2 linked regions of the Homo sapiens genome follow. The protein of the gene in region 2 interacts with the protein of the main gene of each other region in a biochemical or structural test. Each region holds a gene or a part of one and is shown on either strand. Other genes may lie near its edges.

The links.
Region 1: the proteins of RGS9 (region 2) and DRD3 form a complex in vitro, tested with the Homo sapiens proteins (one study listed by BioGRID).

The regions. Positions count from the first base shown.
Region 1 is NC_000003.12:114,176,049-114,183,129, forward strand, and holds the start of DRD3 (D(3) dopamine receptor), read right to left. Parts: upstream 3,005-7,081; 5' UTR 2,609-3,004; intron 146-2,608; exon of another isoform or gene 1-145. UniProt on the Homo sapiens protein: Dopamine receptor whose activity is mediated by G proteins which inhibit adenylyl cyclase. Promotes cell proliferation.
Region 2 is NC_000017.11:65,203,370-65,210,398, reverse strand, and holds part of RGS9 (regulator of G-protein signaling 9), read right to left. Parts: intron 6,237-7,029; coding exon 6,098-6,236; intron 2,478-6,097; coding exon 2,392-2,477; intron 1-2,391. UniProt on the Homo sapiens protein: Inhibits signal transduction by increasing the GTPase activity of G protein alpha subunits thereby driving them into their inactive GDP-bound form. Binds to GNAT1. Involved in phototransduction; key element in the recovery phase of visual transduction.

The DNA.
Region 1 (7,081 bases), on a different chromosome or scaffold from region 2:
TCAGGTCCCCATCAGTTATGACATTTGTCCTGCTTTGCTGATGTTCAATCCCTCAGTGCTGAATAACAGTCTTCCTGAAACATTCGTGGGGTTCCTCCTTAGCACCTCATTAAGACTTACAGAGTTTTAATTATTTGTTCTCTTTCTGTAAGAAAACAAATGAAGATGAAGACAACTACATCTGGGCTACTACTGTGTGGCAAGTATGAGTACTTTACATGCATTTTAATACTTATAGCAGCATGGAAGTTGACGTTAGTCATTCCCAGCCCTGCTTGGGGGCTCATTCCTGTAATCCCAGCACTTTGGGAGGCTGAGATGGAAGGATCACTTGAGGCCAGGAGTTTGAGATCAGCCTGGGCAACATAGTGAGACTCCATCTTTGCAAAAATAAAAGAAAAGAAAAATTAGCTGCGTGTGATGCCATGTGCCTGTATTCCCAGCTACTCGAAAGACTGAGGCAGGAAGATTGCTTGAGTCCAGGAGTTAGAGGCTGCAGTGAACTATAATTGTGCCACTGCACTCCAGCCTGGGTGACAGAGCAAGATCCTGTCTCAAAGTAAAAAAAAACCCACAAAACTGTCATTCCCGAGTTGAGATGGATTTTACTCAACCCAGAACAAAACGCTTCAGTAACAGGGTTCCATGACCACATCTTCACTCATTTCACAGATCTCTGGCTGTTGCTACATCTAATCTTTTACTCAGACGACTCCTGACCACCAGTCGCCAGAGCTTTTCTGGTCTGGGCTGTAATTCGGACTTGCTATATTGCCTGATAAAATTAATAATTATAGCTAAAATTTATAAGCATTATCATCATTCAACCTCACAACAACCTGATGAAGAAGGTAAGCACTATTATCCTATCAAGTTTTCTAGATAAAAAAGGTGAGTCACAGAGAGGTTAAATATCTTGCTGAGATCACAAACCAGTAAATGATGGAGTTGATTCAACCCAAGATTTGTCTGATTCCAGAGCTCATGTTCTTAACTATGCCACTTAACTATGCCACTTTTTGGGGTGAGGCAGACAAATGTGAAATGGGTACTAATTTTACAATCTCACTTGTTCAGAGTATGTGAACATGTCACATCATCTGACTAGGCTTGGTGAAGTAATGCAGGTGCACACTGCTCATAGAGCCAGTGGGAGTTACATTGTTATTATTATTAGAGATAGTCTTTAGCATTTCTATGCTACTTTCTTCTTGCAAATTGCTGCCTATTTTCCTGAAAAAGATTCACAAATGGATTGCAATACATAGCATATTTATGTATTTGGGCACATTTACATTGTTGGTAAATGTACAGAGAAAAACTATTGCTGGTTACTGAGTAGCTAAGATAACAGTTTTTTCCCCTCATTAAACCTGACTAGTAAAGCAGAGCATACTCACTTTCCTTCACAACCTCTAGAGACTGAGCATCCTACCATTCTAATCAGAGATAAAATGGGGAACTCAGCAAATAAATCAATCAATAAGCAAATATTAATTGATGACAAACTTCAATGCATTAGAAATTGAATCTGATATTGAGTAGAAACTGTTCGGTATTTGCTTTAATGTATATTCCATAACAAATAGCCTTCTGTATGGATGCTTTAATATTAGGCACCCATTTGGATACTGTCAGTATTTTCCTTGCTCAATACCCTTGCTCACTGCTAGCCATACAGACCCTTGAAAATATTCAACTACAAATAAATGAGTGCCGAGTAAGAATCTTTCTCACATTGTCTCTACTTCTCCTTGACTATAAGACATCCTAATGCCATGTCAAGCAGTGGTTCTTCACTCTTATCTAAGGACAGATATTTTACAGACCTTTTAGTATCAGTAAGCAAAGGCTTCACCTATAAAGTGAAATAGTCATGCACAATGAGTTTAGAATCCAAGTTTCACTTTGCTATTGCTGCATTATTATTCATGCATGTATTTTGATGGTATTCAATTAAACTAAATGCATGAACTGGAACAAATACCTAATTGCAATGACTTCTGTTGCCCCAGTAAGCTACAGCAAGTAATGGAAGTCTCACAATTAAATAACAATACCCTAAAAATCATATACCATCATCAAAGGAAACATACACAATCATCATCTCAAGTACTACATATCTCTGCTGGGAATAATTGGATTCTGACTTAGAAACAGCCTGACTTTAAATAGACCATTGAAAATAGTGCCTCTCCAAACCTTCAGCTCTGAATTGCCAGGGTGCTGAATTGAGGAGTTTAAAATAACAGACCCTTACAATTAAGTAAAATCCTTAAGAGGAATACAATCAACTTCCATACAAATCCTAGAAATAATAACAGCTTTTTGTTTTCTATCTTTTAATTCTTCCTTGATATAGCTTCTAGAGCCCACAAGGATACAATTTTGGGGGAAAAAATAAAAGAAAAAGGAATATAAAAGGTTTCTGCTGTCCAACCACTTAGAAGAAAAAGAAAACCATTTCCTCAGGGCTTTGGTTTTTAAATAAGAGTGGATATTGAGTTTTAATGCATATTTTTAGAGATCCACAGAACCCCAAGCTGATTAAATAACCTTGAGGAAAATACTATGTCCTAAATTAGAAACGAAAAGAAAAATTACTTACCCTAAAATTTTCTTCTGATTTCTGGAGACCGAGGAGTTTACCACTTCGGCTCCTGCAGCCATTTACTGACAGCAGACATACCCAAGCAAAGCAAACTTTGCCTTTCTCAGGACTCAGAAACTATGAAATGAACAGAAAGAAATCACCCATTTTTGCCTCTAAGGTGAAATTACTTGAGTGCTGCTTTTCCAGCTTCCCTATTAGACCTTAGTGCATGTTTCATAGCTGCTTTCGAATGTATCCGTTTTCTTTAGAGGATTTGGGAGGGACCCTAAACTGAGCGTTGCTTGGGTCAGCCGCTCAGAGGTTCTGTCCTTGGTGCTGAAAGAGGGATGGAGTAGGCATAGGCAGTATCCGTTTTCTACCTCGCTCTCTTTTCCTCTTTGTCTCTCTATCTGCTCGGATACTGTGCTTTTTAGTACATGTATATTTTCTCCTCAGTGCTCTTTTTAATCTTAGTTTTTCCACTGTTTTTACCTTTATGCTTTAATTTCTCTTGAATAACTCTCACCTTCCTCAGTTTAATTGCCTTTCCAGATTTTGGTGGGTGTAAAGATGATTAGTTCAGAAGGAACAGATCATCAAATTGATACCACAATTGGTTAATGGAAATCAGTACAATTTAAAACACAATTGACAGGATAATTGAACTTGGAGGTGTAAGCCTGTCTGGGAAAAGAAGGTTAAAGGAAACATATTACAAAGGTAGCAAAACTGAGGCATGGCGTATAACTGGCAATAAGGATGAAATAAGCTTAATACTGTAAGAAATGTTAAATGTTTACTTAGCAGCACTTCTTGTTTTCAGAGGACTTCATAAATATTTGCCAATTCATTCTTACTGCTTCTCTGTGATATATACATAGATACCTTTTTTAAAACTGGTTTGGAACAAGCTAAAGTGAGATGCAACCAAGGACAATATCAGTGAAAGTCAGCAGTAGAACATAAACAATCCTAACTTATGGTCACCTGTTCATCTTACATTTTACTGTGGCATCCTAACCATTTCCTGTTCTCTCTCTCTTTTTTTTCTCCTCTGTTTGGTCAGTGTGGTAATTCTTCGGCTGTTTTCTCTGCCAACAGTGGATGTGCTTGGCAACTGCGGTGCAGTTATAGGGAAGCTAGCTCTTGTTTGACTATGATGGAGACCTCTGCTGGCTGAGAAAGAAGGCAGCAGCATCAACAAGGTCTAAATACTGCTATTGATAACAACCATCATTTATTGAGCATGTACTTTTAGCCAGTCATTTTAATGCATTGCTCCTTTTAATCCTTTCAACAACCCTACAAGGCAGGTACTATTTTTTACCATCCTTAATTTATGGATAGGAAAATTAAAGCTTATGGAGGTTAGTATAATGTCTGAAAGTCACACAGCTAACAAGTGGCTGACCCAAGATTTGGATCTAAACAACCTAATTCTCTTAACCACTATGGTATAGTCTTCCAAAAGAAGAAAATTTAAACTTCCCAAAAGACTGATAATATGTCAGAGAGAATAATAATTATGACAGTAATAATAATATTAATAATACATTTGTATATAATTATATTTAGAAATCATTTAGATGATTTAGAAATCATTCTGTAAATTATATTACATCAGTCTTCATGATGCCATCTTTATAGAGGCTGTTATGGACTAAATTGTGTCATTCCAAAATTCAAGTGTTGAAGCCCTAACCTTAGAACATGACTGTATTTGGATGTAAGATCTTTGAAGTGTGAGTTAAGTTAAAATGGGGCCTGGAGGGTACGCCCTAATCCAATATGACTGGTTTCCTATAAGAAAAAGAAGAGGCACCAGAAATGTGCACACAGAGGAAAGGACACAGGAAGATGGCATCTGTCTGCAAGCCAAGGAGAGGGGTCTTGCAGGAGAAACCAAACCTGCCACCCTGTTGATTTTGGATTTCTACCCTTCAAAACTGTGCAAAAATAAATTTCTCTTGTTTAATTCACCTAGCCTGTGGAATTTTGTTATGGCATCCCTAGCAAACTAATACAGAGGGTTAGAGAGGTTAGGTTCCATATCCAAGGTTGCCCATAACTTATTGGGCATAAATGTATTAGTTATATGACATAACTATATTGAACATGCCCTAAGACTAGAACTCCTGGGTTGAATGTGAACTCCAAGGCTTTTCTTCCCTTGGATAAGGGGACCAAGAGAATATGCACTGCTAAAACTTGGCTTGTCTGACATATAAAAGCAGGGAGTAATGTCAGGCTGTTATGTGAGCAGAATGAAGCAAAGGCCTTCTAAGGAGTTAAGAACCTCATATCACTCATTTTCAGCAACATGGTTTTCACGTTTCAGTATCCTATGTTTATTTTCTTTAACATTTGAAGACATTGTGCCTAATGATAATGCTATCTTGATAATGCGTGAATGTAGTAGGAAGAACCCTATTTCTAACTTTCTGTGTTGAGAACACATATTCTCTCTTCAAGGGCAGTTGTAAATGCTGGCAAGATATTCCTCAGCATGTTTTTAGTGCCTTCCTTTGGCAAAAGTAAAAGGAAGATAAAGAGTGATATAGACTCTAATTCTGTGTAGGAACAAGAGACAGGAAAATTAACTGACATGCCTAAAATCACACATCTAGGCAGTCAACTCTGTTCTGACTTAGCTGTCTCTGGTAGACTCCTTGACCCCCGTGGTGAATGGGGAGGGATTGGTGTGGAAATAGAAGAGAAGCAGGGTAAATGAAGTGATCCTTTCTCTCTGGACTTCACTATAGGTGAAGATTAGCAATTGCTCCTTTTATCTGGCACTTCCCATTCATACAACAACAAACAATTTTATTCTTTTAAGTAAGTGGAACCCTTATTCATGATTGGCATTGAGATATGCCTTCTGGGAAGAACTCCAAGATGCCTACAGAAGAGATATGCCTGGGCAGAAATCAAGAAAAATATAGATCATTTTTTTCATCTTCCTTCCAGAAACTCCATCTCAATAGCATGGCTGGAACATTCTCATGTACTAGCCAATGGCCCTTCATCAGGGAAAGTCTTTATGTTTTCAACTTGAAGTGGCAAGTCTAGAGCAAGAGAAGAGAGATGGTGGGCTTCTGATACATATGGTTACTCAGTGATTTTGTTTGAAAGGAAATTGATGTGAAGTTTGTGGTGGGACTATTCTCTTCTTGTCTTTGAAATGCTGTTCCAGGGAATGATACAAGAAACCTTGCCTTGAGCACCGACCATTGAGTACACCACTTTAAACCCCCACTGAGTTCCCACTCACTAGGACAGTATGGAGACTAAATGAAGCATTATGGGGAGGCAATTTGCAGGACCTATATGAATAAAGGAACATTTTGTTTCCATGTCTTATTATAACTGGCATTCCTTACTGTGAACTGGAAGATTTGATTATCATGATGATCTTAAACTGCATGATACTGATCTGGTCTGAACAAGAGCCTCTCAGTATGTTTTTCACTGGAATCAGACCTCAAGTTGTAAAAGTGTAAATGAAAGTTGGCAAATGCAGTGAGTGGTCCAGTAGTATGGTTATTTCTTCTCAACCTTAGCCCCTGTTCCTCTCCAATGAGATCTGGTGATAGATGAGAACCATCTGAGAAAGTGTTAGGTTTTATGTTTGAATTCATTCTGCTGCTGTAATACAGTTCTTGAAAGAAAAATAGTTCAACTCACTTATTATTATCTAATATTGAGCACCACTTTCTTCCTTTCTACAAGAGAATGGCAGGAAATAACAGAAGGAGGCTTCTCAATCAATCAGATTTGTACCAAATCACTCATTATAGGTAGCAGAGTAATAGTAAGGAAGGAAATAAATAAATGATAGTGGTTTTTTATATCTGCATCTACCCTTCTGTGTGCTTGCATGTTACCTCCCTTTTCTACTTCTATCTTAACTTTTCGACCTATTTTCTTCCTGTTTTTTACTACCCTCCATCATCATCTAATTTTTTCTTTTTTTCTTTTTCTGTTTTTTGAGACAGAGTCTCCGTCTGTCACCCAGGCTGCAGTGCAGTGGTGCAATCTCGGCTCCCTGCAACCTCAGCCTACCAGGTTTAAGCGATTCTCTAAGTACCTCATATAAGTGGAATCCTACTATATTTGTCTTTTTCAGACTGGCTTATTTCACTTAGCATAATGTTCTCAAAATTCATTGATATTGAAGTATATGTCAGAATTTTCTTTCTTTTCAAGGCTGAATAATATTCAATTGTACCACATTTTGCTTTTCTGTTCATCTATGGATGACACTTAAATTACTTTCACATTTTAGCTATTGTGCATGACACTGCTATGAACATAGGTGTTCAGATATCTTTTTGAGATCCTGTTTTCAGCTCTTTTAGATATATATCCAGAAATGGAATTGCTGGTTCATGTGGTAATTCTGTTTCTAATTTTTTGAGGTACTACCATACTGTTTTCCACAGCAGCTGTATCATTTTACATTCCCATCAATAGTGCATGAGTGTTCCA
Region 2 (7,029 bases):
AAGGTCCAGAATCTATATTTTGTTCCCTCCTTTTTCCAGTGAACCTCCAGTGGGGTCCAACCTTGGCTCCTTTCTCCCCACTTGGAGGATGAGACCAGAGTGAGTACCAACTGCCATCAGATTTTAGGTCAGGCACAAGGAAGACCCTTTTGTTGGCGAAGTTGCATTGAACTTCTACAGTATGTAGAAATCAATTTGTTATCTTAACTTTTTGTAACATCTTCATGAAAGAAGTGGATAATGAAGGCTTGGGTACTGGAGAGAGTTGGAGCATTTGTTTATTTTCTTTTCTTTTTTGGGGCGGTTGGGGGGTGGGCAGCGGGGACAGAGTCTCTCTGAATCACCGAGGCTGGAATGCAGTGGCACGACTTCGGCTCACTGCAACCTCCATCTCCCAGGTTCAAGCCATTCTCATGCTTCAGACTCCCAAGTAGCTGGGACTACAGGCATGTACTACCACACCAGGCTAATTTTTATATTTTTAGTAGAGGCAGGCTTTCACCACGTTGGCCAGGCTGGTCTCAAACTCCTGACCTCAACTGATCCATCCGCCTCAGCCTCCCAAAGTGCTGGGATTACAGGCGTGAGTCACTGCGCCTGGCTGGAGCATTTGTTTTCAAAAGCTATGGTTCTGGGAAGGAAGGAAAGAGCTGGACTGTCCAAAATAGCTAGGCCCCAGTGAACAGAGAAAGAGGGAAGAGGCCTGAAGAGGGCTGGTGGGCTGGTGGTACCCTGCTCATGTGCAATATCTTGACACATGCCAGAACCTTCTTCAAAGCCAAACTGGATTCCTGGAACCAAACTCTCCCTGCCATGGCCTTAGGAGCCAGGACAAAGCTCTAGGTATCCAAGTGATGTAGTGGGCAGTGAGCAGTGGAGCCCACCTGCCTTTGAGGGCCCACGTAAGCTTGGAGCCAAGAACTTCAGCAGCAATAAGAGACAAAGACCTGCAACATACTCCATATTTCTGGACTACATAAGCCCCTTGACTACATAAGCCCCTTGAACTCTTATATCTATCTTAAGGAGAAGAAGGGCTCCCCTACCAGGATGTAAAGCCTGACACTGACATTGGATTTCTCACCAGCCCTGCCAAGAGGAAGGCTTGGAGCTAGGGGTAACTTGTCATGCAAAAATTGAGTTTGAATACATTGTCTTATACCTGGGATCATGGAACAAAATTCACACCCACTGTAGTCCTGGTATGGACACAGACCAGGCTTCACACTTTACGAATGCATTCACGTGTAATTCTCACTCACAATAGTGAGAATTCTCACGTCTGCCCCAACTTCTAAAATATCTGGAGAGAGAGGTATGAGACTCCTCTTTTGTCCCCTCATTACTTTCTGGCAGAACTACTGGAGCTATTACAGGCCTTTCTTCTGGCTTAAAGTAGAAGCTTTTAAGTCCCCAGGGGCACTGAACTCCCTTCCTTACTTGGTAAACCCAGAAGAATAGCACCACAAAGACCTTCTTTCTCTCCTTTTCATAACAGGGCCATTATCCTCAAGAATGAAGCCAAGTTGGTTTTTTTTGTTGTTGTTGTTGTTTTTTCTCCTTTGATAAAGGCTCTGGTCCGGCCATCCCCCTTTTGAATTGATGGAAGATGCTGGAAAGGAGCCCAGTGTGGGTTGACCCAGCAAACAGGGGAACAGTCACTCACTTTGGGGGGGACAGGACACACGATTGCCAGTGGAAAAACCTCTGCCAAAGCCTTACAGTTTTGTTCAAGCTGCCATTCAATTTATATTTTAAATCTTCAATCCTTGTAGATTGAATTCCCCCGGAAAAGAGTTCAATCTGCCCCTCAGGACATTATTTCGTCCATTGTCCCAATGGCTCTACCAGATGAGATGATCCACATCTCCAATGAGAAAAGTGAGAATGAACAAGTTCATGGACTTCTAAAACATGGTCCCCGGAGGCAGCAAGAATACCTAGCCCGTTACTGTCCGTTTCCCCTTCACTGAGCATTTTCTCTTGGGGTGCAATCTGCTATTCTCTCTAAGGTCTTAGAACAATTTAAATACAAGGATGTACCTTAATTAATTCCCATACATCAGTTTGGAGGTAACGAGTAGCAGTTAAAAAACCAAGGAGAAGCTTCCATTTGTGATAAGGGTAATTATTGGTCTGATCCTCTAAACTCTTTCAAGCCAGCTTTAGGGGAAACAAAACTTAGTGGTGGTAATTACTAAGGAAATCTTGCTAGAGTGATTTCAGGGCATTATGAAGCAAATGAGGCACTCATTCCCTGAGCAATACTTCCCAGTCCCCAATATTTTCATCAAGCAAATATCTCCATAATAGCCATTTGGCTGAAAGAGACCCTCACTTCTCTGTAAACTAAGCAGCAGGCAGCCAGCAATTACAGATAATTCCACTTGCCTTTTCTTGGTGGTTTCCTGAGGTTCAATAGCTTTGGCCAGCATGTCCTTATAGATCGGAGATTTTAAATAGCGAGCATAAGAATCCTAGTGGGAACAAGAAAACAACAGTAATTATGAGAGAAAAAAGCAGTCAAATCAAACCAATACCCTTGCCATTTTCAAGCCTCCCTTGGCAGTAGAATGGAAAAGTTATGAGAATTTGTCTCCTTGGGTGAAAGGTGTTGGGGGAGGTGTTGAGAGCAGTGGTTCTCAAGTGTGGTCCCCTCCAGAAGCATCAATTTCACCTGGGAACTTCTCAGGCCTGCCCCAGCCGTCCTGATGAGAAACTCTGGGAGTGATTCACCCTGAGCCTGAACAGTCTCAGGTTTTACAGCTCACAGCTTCAGATCCTATCAACATTGTCTGTGATTCAGCCTATGTTGTAAATGTAGCCAGTTGCATAAAAGCTGCTACAGTTAAAAGTACACTAGACCCAGAACTGCTTAATTTGTTTCACTTATTCTCATATGCTGCATGCTACATGCCAAACAGGTGAGACAGCTGGTCATGTATGGAGACATTGCCTGTCATCATTTGTTCACATGAGGACACCTAAACAATTAACAATTAACAACTACCTGAACAGTCTCCAGGTAATTCTGCTGCACCTTTAAGTTTGAGAATTACAGTCTGTAACCCTACACATGAAGATCCACCTTGGAGTGGTTCAGTGAAGCCAGCATGAGACAAGAGCACATCTGACCTCTCCTCTCCAAGACTTTCTTCCAAGGAAGATGAGCAGCCAGGAGTATGGAGCCCACTTCTAAGCCATTGACATCCCTTTCTGCCCTGTGTTTTGGGTGTAAAGGCAAGAGAATACCAAAGCAAAAACAAAAACAACCAACGCGTAGAGTCCAGTTATGGGGCTGTTTACTGGGACTCTGGGCAATTTCAGAGAAGCTTCATGAATGCTCGTTACTTTTAAGCGAGCGGAAAACTCTAGTCATACCCAATATGGGACAAAGGCCACTGCAACAAACCAGGGATTGAGGTATTTTAAAAATTTATTGAAATGGCACTATTCTAAAGACTAAGTGGGAGCAGTAAAAGTTATGAGAACTAGGATAGAGTCTAGGAATAGGGACCATGGAGCCACTGGGATACGTTGAGTGTTTCACCATAGGACATAGCTGTAATGGCATATAGGGAGTCCAGTGGGCATATATGCCATTCTTTTCTGCAGTTACCAATGACTGTTCCATTCTGGCTAGTAACTGGCCTCCCTGGGCATCCCCTAAAAAGCCGTATGAAAACTACAGGTTTTTTTGTTTGTTTGTTTGTTTGTTTTTTGAGACGGAGTTTCACTCTTTCGCCCAGGCCGGATTGCAGTGGCACGATCTCAACTCACTGCAACCTCCACCTCCCAGGTTCAAGTGATTCTCCTGCCTCAGCCTCCTGGGTAGCAAGATTACAGGCATCCACCACCACGCCCAGCTAATTTTTGTATTTTTGGTAGAGACGGGGTTTCACCATGTTGGCCAGGCTGGTCTCAAACTCCCGACCTCGTGATCTGCCCACCTCAGCCTTCCAAAGTACTGGGATTACAGGCGTGAGCCACTGCGCCCAGCCGAAAACTACATTTTTAAGAACCAAAACGTTTTAAAATACATTAAAGAGGATTATTATTAAAGAAACCCTGCTGTGAATCGTCTAGTAACAAAAACAAAGAGACAGCCACTGATTCAAAACACACAGAAACACCCCACTGATTCAAAAAATGATGAAAATGGCTAATCTGGCTTGGCGGCAATTCTAAATTATTACATGCTTTAAAAACAAAGTAAAAATACTTTTAAATGATACAATAAAAGACTAAATAGAAGAAATATAAATCAGGAAAGCTAATCAGCATTTACCATTCACACAAACCTATATACATAACCTATATCATATAACCTATATCACATAACCTATATCACACAGCCTATATCACATAGCCTATATCATATAAACCACATCATATAACCTATCTCATATAACCCACATCATGTAACCTACATCATATAATCTATATCATATAACCTATATCACATAACCTATATCAGATAGCCTATATCACACAACCTATATTATATAACCTATATCACATAACTGATACCACATAATCTATATCACATAACCAATATCACATAACCTATATCATATAATCTATATCATATAACCTATATTACATAATCTATATCACATAACCTATATCATATAATGTATATCATATAACCTATATCACATGACCTACATCAGATAGCCTATAACACATTACAATCTATAACATATAACTCATATCATATAATCTATCTCATATAGCCTATATCACATAACCTATATCAGATAGCCTATATCACATTATAACCTATATCATATAACCTACATCATGTAACCTATGTCATATAATCTCATATAACCTATATCATATAACCTATATCAAATAGCCTATATCACATAACCTATATCATATAACCTGTATGACATAGTCTATCTCATATAAGCTATATCACGCAACCTATGTCATATAATCTATCTCATATAACCTATATCAGATGGTCTATATCACATAACCTGTATCACATAACCAATATCCATAACCTATATCACATAATCTATCTCATATAACCTATATCACATAACCTATATCAAATAGCCTATATCACATAACCTATATCCTATAAAGATACTTTGCCCTTAAAGAAATCATTGCCATAATGAGAAGTTGAAGCACCCAAAGAAAGTCTTGTCAAGGATGGCACCAAAGAAGAATCAAACTAGACAAGTTCTTTAAGGCTAACTCTGAGCCTCCGATTCTAGTTTCTTAAGAAAATGATTGATTTTTCTCTCAGGTACCCTTCACATATTTTTTTTTAAATTCCCACCGCATTCGCACTTTGTTAATAATCCAGAGGGCTATCTAAATTCTCACAGGGTCTTACTACAATCACACACACACAAATTTGTCTCTCCTAGACACTACGCCTCTATGTGTAATATTTGCCTGGGGCCAGGGTGGTGAGAATTGCCATCACTCTGCAGCAGAAACTAAGAGCTCGGCCTTGAAACCCAGGCAGACCTGGCTATGAATCCCAGCCCCATCTCTGGTGAGACCTTGACCAAGCCACTAGATTCTGGAGCAGCAAAGCCTAACTTGTGGGCTGTCTTTGAGCATAAAGTTCTGTGTTTCGCACAGCGACTGCACCTTGTAAGCCCTCAACGAATGATGGCTGTTATTATAATGTTGTCATTACTAATGCCATTACTCCTACCTGTCTACTGCTGCAGAGTGGGGCCCGTAAGGATGCACACAGCTTCTACAGGAGTTCCTCTAGGCCCGTGGGTGAGGGGCTCAAGGCAAGTCCACCCCAGTGGACAGGTGGAAGAGACGGTTGACAATTCTGGGGTTTTTCTCTTTCTCTCTCTTTCTTTTTTATATAAAGACAGGGTCTCACTGTGTTGCCCAGGCTGGTCTCAAACTTCTGGGCTCAAGATATCCTCCCATCTCAGCTTCCCAAAGAGCTGGGATTACAGACATGAGCCCCCATGCTTAGCTGCATGCCACAACCGGCAAAGCTCTATCCACGTATCCTCTCTCTTTTTCCTATATCTAAAGAATTTTCCGGGTACTTAGTGACAGAAAGCCTATCTGGACCCCGTATCCACAGCACGGACCCACCTACCTTCTTCATGAGCATGTAAATGTGGGTTTGTGCGGCGTCCAGCACATAGCGGTGGGGGTGCTTCAGCCCCTTCACTGTGATGTCCATGGTTTTGCCATCTATGTTGATCCAGCGCCTCGCCCCCGGGGCCAGGAACAGCCTGGGGTGGGAGGGAGATGTTAGCAAAAGTAACTAAACCAAGTCAATTCATGGATAGCTCACAGCTGCTTGGGAGGGAAGGACTGATACGAATCGGTTACCGAGGGTGAGGGTGGTGGTTTTTTTAGGAGACACTAAAGAGCATGAACTTTTGAAGAGGTTGTCAAGCAATTTTTCCTTGAAGCAAGAAACTTCCAGTATTGGGAATATGAATATTTAACTTTGATGTTTCCAACCTCCAGGAGAGAGAGCAAGAAGGGGCTGGGGCCCAGGTCGGATTAGGTCCTGGCCATGAGGGTGAAGAACTCAGCCTCCAACTTCACACCTTCTGCACCAGGATTCCAGGGGCAACCTGGGACCAGGCTAAGACACCTTCACACAGGTGTTCTGGGGGTCTCTGCTCTCCTCCCAACCCACATGTGCTTTGTAATGAATTTCACATGCTGTGTCGAGAGGCAGCCCATAGTCCCAGAACCCAGAGGTCTGACCCGCTGGGCAGACAGGCCAAGGCTCCCAATTAGACCAAACTTGGCCACACTTCCTGAGCCCGTGGCTCTACCTGGGATGTCGGGATGCAGAGCTCTCTCAGTATTTCCAGTTCTGAGCTGTTGCTGAATTAGAAATACTCATATGAATATTTTCCTACCTTTCTAAGATGTACATTAAAATTTTGGAATTGAAACTGAGATTTACATAACATAACCAGGGAGCCTGGGGAAGGAAACTGGTCTAATGGCAGAGGCAGCGGGCTTCCTGTAGCAGATTTTTGGAATCAGGAGTTGTGTGTGCGTCAC